Regions from separate parts of the Homo sapiens genome. Here region 1 is linked to region 2. Evidence: fine-mapped expression QTL. A gene starts in region 2. The other region holds a variant in brackets. All regions are shown on one strand. Distances are from middle to middle. Region 1 overlaps GNA13 (G protein subunit alpha 13). Region 2 holds the start of GNA13 (G protein subunit alpha 13).

Evidence for each region. PIP is the estimated chance that this variant, and not a neighbour inherited with it, causes the effect.
Region 1: its variant is the best candidate, but not a certain one, in a credible set for the expression of GNA13 in tibial artery (GTEx, PIP 0.52).

Annotation. Positions count from the first base shown.
Region 1 is chr17:65,005,870-65,011,397 of GRCh38, reverse strand. It overlaps GNA13 (G protein subunit alpha 13), which reads left to right. Exons shown (of 4, transcript NM_006572.6): 4 at 1-2,109. Among named protein-coding and RNA genes, the nearest start is that of GNA13, 48 kb to the left of the region's middle. The variant G/C (reference allele first, on the strand shown) is at 3,125.
Region 2 is chr17:65,053,808-65,058,807 of GRCh38, reverse strand. GNA13 (G protein subunit alpha 13) reads left to right here and starts at 2,068. Exons shown (of 4, transcript NM_006572.6): 1 at 2,068-2,497. The coding sequence starts at 2,215. RefSeq lists silencers at 1,781-2,290, 2,571-2,830.

The sequences.
Region 1 (5,528 bases), 48 kb after region 2:
TGGAAAGGGCACTGGATTGCTCTGCAACCAAAGAAAGCAATATGGAATGAAAAAACTCATTCACTTTTGTCTTATTTTCTTTTAAGGTGTATTGGCATGTAATTTGCATAGAGAAGGTCCTCTGGTTAGTCTCTCAAATTGAGGCTGTTTAGGGAAATCCTTATTCAGTTGGTGGCAGTGGTTGGTTTAAAGTAGAAGGAAATAAGATCGCCTTAATACCAGAAATGATTAGAAGTGCTGATTTAGATTCAACAAATACCATATGTCCTTATCATTTTTTGTAAGAAGAAATTGGTTAAGTCCTAACTTTCAATGTGTACCCAAATACTTGTATTTATGCTTTTGATAAAATGTATTTTCAGCATTAATACACATCCGATTATGCCTTATTTATATATGAAGAATAAAGTTACCATGTTACACTGTTATGTCCTAAAATTCAAATCACTATTTGAGAAACCCTCAAATTGGTGCTTTCATTATATAATGATACATTTAGACAAAACCCCAAACTAAGCCATTTGAAACAAGATTCTCTCCATTGCAGTTTGTAGCAATGTTATTTCTGTGTATGTCATGAGAAGGCTAAATATCAGTGTTAATTTCTTGTTTGAATCCGTGAAATCATGCCTGTAAAGCCCAAACATTTGTAACAAACTCCCTAATAAATTTAGAGAAAGTCACTCTGTTACCATTTCATTTATTTTAGTTTTATTTGAGAAATTAAGACCAGAAGTTTTGCTCATGTCTTTTTCACTTGGAAATCTGACTTAGTACCTAGTTAATTTGTCTCTCTCCCATCATTTTAAGGCGTTCGCTTCTGTTAATCACAGATGATCTGTCCTTGTGTTGTGCTGCTTGACTAAAAGCACTGTTTTGTTTTGTTTTGTTTTGTTTTTTAATGATAGGATACAGGGTGGCTTTTCAGTCTAGTAAACATGAGGAGGGGAGAGATTGTGGGTGGGTGTGGGTGTGTCCGCATGTCCCAAATACAGCACATGCCCATTTTTTTATGGTACGAGGTTAGGGCTTATTAATAAATGTATACTAGATCTTGAAGTGTAAGTCTAAGTCTGAACATTTTAAACAAGTTGGACTTTATGGCTTTTTCAAGTTCCATCAAGTAGATACTAGTCTTAGGCTGGTAGGTGATTAACAACATCATTTGGAGTACAGTGTTTGTACCACTAGCATTCTTATGTCTGTACTTGAACGTGTAGTTAGCATTTAAGTTATGTTCACTCTTGTAGCATTCAGGTCTTACCATCTGGTTTCAAATGCGAGAGCTTATATGAACATTGTTTTGAAAGCATGAATGATATGGCAATATTTTATGTCTTGATAAGGAGAGTTTTGTGACATATACAAATCTGCTGTTGATGATGAAAGTTTACAGGTGGATCAGAGTATGCTGGAACTCAGTGTGCATAAAATTTCAGTCAGTGAATATCACTGAACGTCATATACTACTTGGTATGTGACTTTGGTTTGTGTTAAGAAAGCTTGTATATAATATTTTTTGCCATAGTAAGTGAGAAATTGTCCTTAATCATGCCTGTTTGATGGTACTAGGAAAGAAAGGGGTAGAGATTAATTCTTGCACAGTATAAGCAACAGTGCAACAAACTATGCCATTTACCTTTTACCTCTTACTTGAAGGCAGAATCGCAAAACGTTTGAAATGGCTTTTCTAAACTACTCTACTCTGGTGAGAGCTCATTTACCACAAGAAGCCTTATAAAAAAGTATATTTTGTAATAACCCCGTAGATACTGTACCTAACAAAACATGACTCGTATTAGCTCTATAAAATATTTGTGGCTTAGGATTTTTTTTTTACATATATCTTTTTATAACTTTCCAGGAACTAAGCACATTATCTGATAATTGTTGTAAATTTTTTTGTCAGTGCTTTAGTTCAGGATGGGCAATAAATTATTTCTAAAGGAGGTCTAAAAGTGGAAAGAATGGTTTGATTTTATAAAATGAGTTGCTAGTTCATTACAGCTTTTTACTTTTGTACATATTTTGCAAAACATTTGCCTCTTGCTATTAATATTTGCTTTGTAAAAATTACTGACATTTAATAAACATTTGTAAACAATTCAATACTATGATGTTATTTAACAGTTTGGTAATTGTAAAATGTAAAGCAGATACTAAAAGTTTGAAAGCAAAAGTTTCATCTAGGGCCTGAGTTAAGGCACAAATCTACTTCAGCAGAATCCCAATGCCACTTGGCTTGAATATTAGTCTAGAAACTTCTTACTAGAAATGGAGATGTGGACTTCTTCCAAGGAAGTTCTCAGACACTTAATATGTTTTGACAAGGGAATAGGGGAAGAGAAACCACTTGTTTTCTCTGCTCCTCTTATGGCCACTGAAACTGTATTAGGGTGTACCTGAGCTCAGTTCATCCAGCTGCGACAATATTAATAATTCTGTTACGTCTGTTGTAATTAATGTTTGGAGACAAACCAACATTGACCACTCATCTTTTTTAAAAAAATAAACTTCATGTTAGATTATGATTTACAGAAAAATTTCAAGACAGTACAGAGTTCCCCTATACTCCACACCCCTTATAATAGTTCCCGTAGTTACCGCCTTGCATTACTTTGGTACATTTGTCATAATTAATGAACCAATACTGATAACATTATTCACTAAAGCCCATGCTTTGTTCTTGTTTCCTTAGTTTTCCCCTAATGCCTTACTTGTGTTCCAGGATCCATCCAGCACACGACATTACATTCGCTCGTCATGTCTCCTTCAGCTCTTCTTGGTAGTTAACAGACTCCTGTTTATCTCAGACTTTGTTTTTGATTACTTTGGCAGGTGTTTTTTGTTTGTTTTTTCTTTTTGAGACAGGGTCTCACTCCTTTGTCACCCAGGCTGGAGTGCAGTGGCCCGATCTCAGCTCACTGCAACCCCCACCTCCCAGGTTCAAGTGATTCTCCTGCCTCAGCCACCCAAGTAGCTGGGATTACAGGTGCGTGCCACCACACCCAGCTACTTTTTGTATTTTTAGTAGAGACAGAGTTTCGCCATGTTGCCCAGGCTGGTCTGGAACTCCTGAGCTCAAGCGATTTGCCTGCTTCGGTCTCCCAAATTGCTGGGATTA[G/C]AGGCTTGAGGACTTTGGCAGTTTTGAGGAGTACTGGTCAGGTATTTTGTAGAATGCCCATCTGTTGAAATTTGGTGTTTTTCACATGATTAGACTGGGTTATGGGTCTGGGAACCAGAGAGAGAAAGTATCATTATCAAATCGTGTCAAGCACACCTTCTGTGGTTACTACTCATCTTTTCCCTTTACGCTTTCCTGCTAAGTTAGCAGTTGTCAAATCACTTGGCATCTTTATGCCTTTTCTTACCTGGCATGTATTGAAAGCTATGGCTGGGCGTGGTGGCTCACGCTTGTAATCCCAGCACTTTGGGAGGCCAAGGCTGGCGGATCACTTGAGCTCACGAGTTTGAAACCAGCCTGGGCAACATGGTGAAATCCCGTCTTTACAAAAATTAGGTGGGCATGGTGGCATGGGCCTGTAGTCCCCCAGCTACTCGGGAGGCCGTGGAAGTTGCAGTGAGCCAAGATCGCGCCACTGCACTCCAGCCCGGGTGATAGATCCAGACCTTGTCTCTAAGTAAATAGATAGACAGACAGATAGATAAAGCTGTGCTTGTACTGTTCTTCCCCTAAACAGAATGAAGGGCTTTCTCTTGGTGTTGCAAAGCAGGTGTGAGGAAATGGCTGGAGGTAATGGCTGGCTGTGCTCCTAGCTGCTCTGGTTCCAACCTCTCTGGCAAATAAAAATTCTTCTCCAGGTTCTCACCTCTAACATGAAATGTTACTGTTGATCTCAAGAGAAACTGGGTTAGAAAATTTGGACTTTGAGTCTAACTCTTAACATCTAAAAATCTGTGACTTTGGAAACAGGTCTTTCTGGGAGAGATTTAAGATCTTTAAAAATTGAAACTAGACTCACTTGAGCATTTGAATCCCCAAACAAACCAAGAGGTCATTTAAAAAACAAAAACACCTTTTTTATGCTGTTGTTGGAACAAGGGAATATTTATCTGTGTAAAAAGAAACAATACAAACTATTGTGTAGCAAAGTGGGCACAATCCTGGTTAATTGGCACTGTGGGATGTCATGTCAGTACAGGATGCTCTCCCAAAATGACCTGTTTCATTGCCCACAGAGTGGGTTGTTGAAAACGAAAAGGGAGACTTTTTGGTCCTGAGAATATAGGAAACTCAAGGTTTACAGGTTAAACTAGAGGTCTGTTTTGGTGACTTGGGAAATTTGGCAAATCCTCAAAAAGCAGATGGCCCAGGGCAGTGTTTTAAAATACATGCTATAGGCCAGGCGTGGTGGTTCCCGCCTGTAATCCCAGCACTTTGGGAGGCTAAGGTGGGCGGATCACTTGAGGTCAGGAGTTTAAGACCAGCCTAGCCAACATGGTAAAACCACGTCTCTACTAAAAATACAAAAATTAGCCAGACCTGTGGCGGGCGCCTGTACTGAGAATTGCTTGTATCTGGGAAGCAGAGGTTGCAATGAGCCAAGATCGCACCACTGCACTCCAGCCTGGGTGACAAAGCGAAACTCCATCTCAAAAAAATTTAAAATAAAAATAAAGGCCTGGAGTGGTGGCTCACACCTGTAATCCCAGCACTTTGGGAGGCCTAGGCTGGCGGATCACCTGATGTCAGGAATTCGAGACCAGCCTGGCTAACACAGTGAAACCCTATCTCTACTAAAAATACAAAAACTAGCCGGGTGTGGTGGCACGTGCCTGTAGTCCCAGCAACTCAGGAGGCTGAAGCAGGAGAATCACTTTAACCCGGGATGGGGAGGTTGCAGTGAGCCAAGATTTTGCCACTGCACTCCAGCCTGGGCAACAGAGCGAGACTCCGGCTCTAAATAAATAAGTAAATAAATAAAAGTACATGTAATTTTTCGTCAGAAATTAGTGGGGCCTCTGAAATACGGTATTGTGGTTGGCATAAGGGGTATCCACGAAAATGCTGTGCAAGAATATTTCACAGTGTTCCTTTTTCTTTGAAGTACACCAAGAAAACAAAAGGCTCAAACAAGTATGGGATACAAATTAGCCATTCAAGGAGGCTGTGTTCAGCTTATCTGTTTGCCACAAGAATACTGAGGGAAGTTGTGTCCAGAATTAACATTTATACTGAGTGGAGGAGTATGTTGCTTTTTCTTTTCCCCATGAAGGTTCATGGTAGGAAAACAGAAGCTATCATGTCTTTTTTAAAGTCGATGATTCTTCCGTAATGACCTAGACTGCCGCTTTAGACACGCTTGATTTTCTGCCCCTGCCAACTGCTGAAGGGGAGACAGAACATAAGATGAACTGAAGGCTAAGCACTGCTGACCTTGGGGGGAGAAAAAGTTGTTTCGTTTTACTTTCACATTATTCTACGTGGAAAATCCCCAGTTCTTGTAAGCTTTGTAGGATTTAACTAGCTGATTTTACCATCAGACTTAGTTGAAATTTTGTTCTGA
Region 2 (5,000 bases):
CGACATGAACTGGCTGGGCAGGAATACCTTCCTGCCTCCTAGGCATTCTTGGTTTTCCATTATATTACACACACTTCTGAAAAAAGATGTTAACTACCTAACTTACAAGTTTCTCTCCTCTTTGTTGGAGTTCAGATTAGCACCTGGGGTCAATGCAGAAACAGTGCTCGGGGACAGGTTCTATGCCCCAATCCTGGGAGAGGCGAGTCCTTGCATGGTTAGAGAACAGGGCCTCCCAAACACTAGATGAGATGATGGAAAAATTCTCCATCCAGGGCAGGCTTTTACCATATATTTTGCCTGACAGCACTGCTCAGTGATTCTGACTCTTATCAATCCACAGATATTGGAGGTGAGCCTACTCTACTTGTATATTGTAGGTTGTCCACCCTCTGGGCTTGCCAGAGCCACAGGAGATAATCCTACTACAGGCATTGTTTACTGCAGCCAATCTACTGAGTCGAGGCTTCTCGGTCATTAACCCAACCCCAGGGAGTAACTGATTAGTACCGATTTTAAAATTTAAACCTGTTCGGGAGTTTCTTGGAATGCTGACCTCTTACCTCCGCTCCCTTATACATACGAAGTTTCTGAGCCACAGGAGCCCAAAGCTACGTTGCATTGCCCAAAACAGGGACAGACCAAAGTGGCTTTTTCCACTTGAAACTAAATACTAAGAATGAAGAGGTCGGCTCTCGGGGGTCCCGGTTAAGCAGTTTCTCTGCCAACCCACAGCTGTCACTTGTGGCTTGTCTCCTGGCCTCCTTTCAGGTGTCCTGGCCTGAATCTGCTGTTAGGACAGAAAAAAAGTCCCTGGACGGGTCATATCCTCTGTAATCTGGCAGGAAAGCTAAAATTTGCGTGCTCCCATTCCTCGTTGTGTTTGTGTATCTGCTTCCTTGTTGGGAAGAGCCTACATCACAGTGTCCGGTGTAGGGGATTTTCACCATGACCTCACCCTCCTGCTGCCACTCGCTAATTCCGGCGCGGCCAAGCGTCCCTGAAGTCACATCACAGCCCAGGTGGAATGCACGAGTGAGCCATTAAATGCCCCTGGTAGCACGTCTCAAGTGAACATCAACTCCAGTTCTTTCCCCTCACAGAGAGCCCTGGTAGGGGTCTGAAAATGCCAGAAAGAGCTGGAAGTGGGGGTGGACGACGTCTGGTTACCGTTCTGGGATTCGGAGACTAGAAGGTCAAGGGAGTCACTTTAAGAAAACACACCAGGCCTGGGCCTGGTGGCTCTGTCTGGAATCCCCGCACTGTGGGAGGCCGAGGCTAGAGGATCGCTTGAGCTCAGGAGTTCGAGACCAGCCTGGGCAACATAGGGGGGAGCCCCTGTATCTAAAAATAAATACAAAAAATTTAGCCGGGTATGATGGCACACGCCTGTACTCCCAGCTACTCGGGAGGCTGAGGCGGAAGGATGGCTTGAACCTGGGAGGCGGAGGTTGCAGTGAGTCGAGATCGAGCCAATGCACTCCAGCCTGGGCGACAGGGTGAGACTCCGTCTCAAAAGAGAAAAAATAAAATGAAATAAAGAAAATGCACCAAAGGCCTGCCAGGCTCACGCCGGCTGTTCTGTTCGAATAACTTTCGAGTCCGTGGCCTCGAAATGGGTCGGGTGGGCGGTGACAGCGGGCAGCGGGCGCGCAACGCGGGAGAAAGGGAGGCTAAGTGGGAGCCCAAAGAACCGCGTCCGGGACCTGGTCTCCGGCCTCCCGGCCTTGGGGAAGGAGCCCTTCTGCCCACAAGTGGGCTCAGGCCATGAAAGGGAAACAGAAAGTCGGGCTCCCCAGCCTGGCCCACGTGACCGCGGTTCCTCAGCCCTCCCCGCGCGCCCGGCCGCGGCTGCGGGCGCGGGCACCCGAGCGACACATCGAGCTCGTGACTCGCCGCCCAGGGCGGGAGGCGGAGAAGCGGCCGCGGCGTGCGAGCGCGCCTCCGGGAGGCAGCGGGAGCGCGCACGCTCCGGGGCCACCGCCCCTCCGGGGCCGGGCCCGCCCTCCTTCCCTCCCTCCCTCCCCCGCTGTCCTGGCCCGCCCTGCCCGGCCCGCCCTGCGAGTCAGTTCGCTGGTTCCCTCCCTCCCTGGGCGCGCTCGGGCCGCCGCCGCGCTCCCCGCCCTCGAGCCTCGGTGCCGGAGCCGCCCGCCGCCGGAGGAGGAGGTGGAGGGAGCCGGAGGGGCCCGCCGAGGCGGCGGCGGCGGCGGCAAGATGGCGGACTTCCTGCCGTCGCGGTCCGTGCTGTCCGTGTGCTTCCCCGGCTGCCTGCTGACGAGTGGCGAGGCCGAGCAGCAACGCAAGTCCAAGGAGATCGACAAATGCCTGTCTCGGGAAAAGACCTATGTGAAGCGGCTGGTGAAGATCCTGCTGCTGGGCGCGGGCGAGAGCGGCAAGTCCACCTTCCTGAAGCAGATGCGGATCATCCACGGGCAGGACTTCGACCAGCGCGCGCGCGAGGAGTTCCGCCCCACCATCTACAGCAACGTGATCAAAGGTGCCGGGCCGGGAATGGGGGCCGGGGGTTAAGGGCAGGGGGGCTGGGGCGGCGGCGGGTGCGGGGCGGGGCACCGCCCTGGTCCGCTGTGTCGCTGGCGAAGGAACGGGCCCGGCGGGCGGGCTGGCGGGAAGGGGGCGCGCCCCGGCAACTGGCCCTGCCCGCCCGGGGTGCCCTCGCGCCCCAGGGCGAGAGGATGCTCGGGGTCGCCCTGCTCTCCCGCTTGTCTCCCCGGTGGGCGTCACGGCCATTCCCCCACCCCCCACCGCGTCCTGGTCTCTCCCCCTGCGAGAGGGAAGTGGGGCGAGCTGGGTGCTGCCTCGGGGTGTGGGCAGACCTCTCCTGTCCTCCCCGCTGCGGATGAGGCAGGAACACCAATAGCAGCCCTAGCCGCTTCACCCCCATCCCCTGCTCGGGCGATGTGGGCCGAACCTCGCTACCCTGGCTGGGTGACCCGAGTCACATGGGGTCGCATGCGCTCCCAACTCCCTGCTTCCTTGGCCGTCTCCTAAGCAAGCGAGTTCTGGAACCGTCGCAATAAGGGAACTTTTTGCCCGAGACTTCTTGTCAAGGGCGTAGGGTGACAGCCTCCTTTTGGGCGAGAATATGAAACTTGAGGAGTGTCAGGTTGACTGTACTGGAATCAGGAGAGAGTGGACCCATACAGTTAGCATGAAAATGTAGCATCTGTGCTTTTTCGCCCCAGTGTCACGGTCAGGTAGGATGTTTGCGTGTGATTTCTGTGCAACACGTTCCACTCTCCTTTTCGCTAAGTAACTGGGGGCTGGCAGGAAGGGAGTACCACTGCTTCTATTTAGATGAAATGTAGTAGTAAGAAGACTGGCCTAAAAGTCATGTGGATCCTGTACAGATGGAGACAATGAATGAGTGTTGAGTTAGATAATTGGCTCGGCTCTTTATTGACAGTAGTTTTAAAATTAAACTTTGTTCTTAAGTGAAAAATAAACAAGTTGTTTATTTCTGGGCATTCAAAGAAATCGAAAAGATGGTTTTTATTTTGTCATTTGAAAGATAATTAACACTCGTTTCTGCGTGTCAAGTATGTTCTATAGAAAAGGCATTTTGGCAAAATTTAGGTGCAGCGCCTGGTAACTCAGGTGCATCTGGATTTTATTTTATCTGGGGAGCAGTTTAGGAGTTTGCTACAGATTGCAGGTCTTTTTAAGTGGGATTTTTGTTCAGGAAGTACATAAGGGACTTCTGCATGTCACCCCCCCGCCCCCTCCCCGCCAACCGCCTCCCGAGCTTCCAGCGTTTGGGTAAAGGAAAACTGCCTGAAGAGCCAGGCATTATGGAGTAATGAATTAGAGAGAATCACTAGACCACAGCCAGCTCTAGCCCTAGTACCTCTGCAGTTAAACTATAAAGAACAGTTGTATTTATCCTGCTGTAATGTTTAGCTCAAAACTAATTAAGGTCTCTTTCAAGGCTGCAGACTCTGCCTTGACAGTCCTTAATTGAAGGTACCTTTGTAACCTGATGCAGCTGAACTTAAGGAATTATGTTAATGAATAGCATCAACATGTTAACTGACTGTGAGCCTGGTAAACACCTCGTTCTTAATGTACACTGAGTTGTAAGTGTGATCTACGTTGAGCATTGATTATGAGATGATGTAAGTCATCAGGAATCTAGTTTTTTCAAGTTGACATGAAATTTGACAGTAGAACAGTTTCTCAGGCTGGGCGTGGTGGCTCACTCCTGCAATCCCAGCACTTTGGGAGGCCAAAGTGGGAGGATGGCTTGAGCCCAGGAGTTCCAGACCAGCTGGGCTACATAGCCAGACCTCGTCTCTATTAAAAAACAAAAACAAAAAAACCCCACCCGTTTTTCAGTTATTCAGATGACTTCCTAATAGCCAAGTGACTGTTCAGATTGATCAAACTTAATAAAAGTAATAGATCAGTGATAGGAAAAATGAGTTTCAACTAACCTCTGTGAGTTGGAGTCCGACTTTGTATTATTTTGCAGTTGATCTTCCTCCCTTTTAGGGAAATTGAAGGCCATCCTGTAACTTAAACTGGATTGAAACTTGGGCTGGAAGAAGTTTTTAAATTTTGAATGTGTTGCTAGAAGACTCAATGTTGGGTTAGGGTGCCGAAGCAACAAACAGAACATGGAGCTATAGTAGTTGGTTCTTAGTGTTTCATAAATGAACATCTTTTAGGCTCATAAAACCTTGGTTGTGTCTGTTTTCTTCTGAGCTTGGACATTGTTGGTCTGTGCAGCATAACTTCTTTTTCTTTCTTGAGTTAGATTGTTTTTTGACTACCTTCTATCCTAGAAGTTATTTTATAAATTGGAACATGTTAAAAATCCTTCAGAGAGAGGAATTGTGCTAATAGTATTTGCTTTTCAAGGCTCTAATTTTAAGACAGTGAGCAACTGTTATTTTTTTTAACCTCTGAGAAGTTACATTTGTTTTCGATGTTGGTCTTCATTTTTGAAGAAGGTTTGTCTAGGTTAATTCAGAAGTATAAGG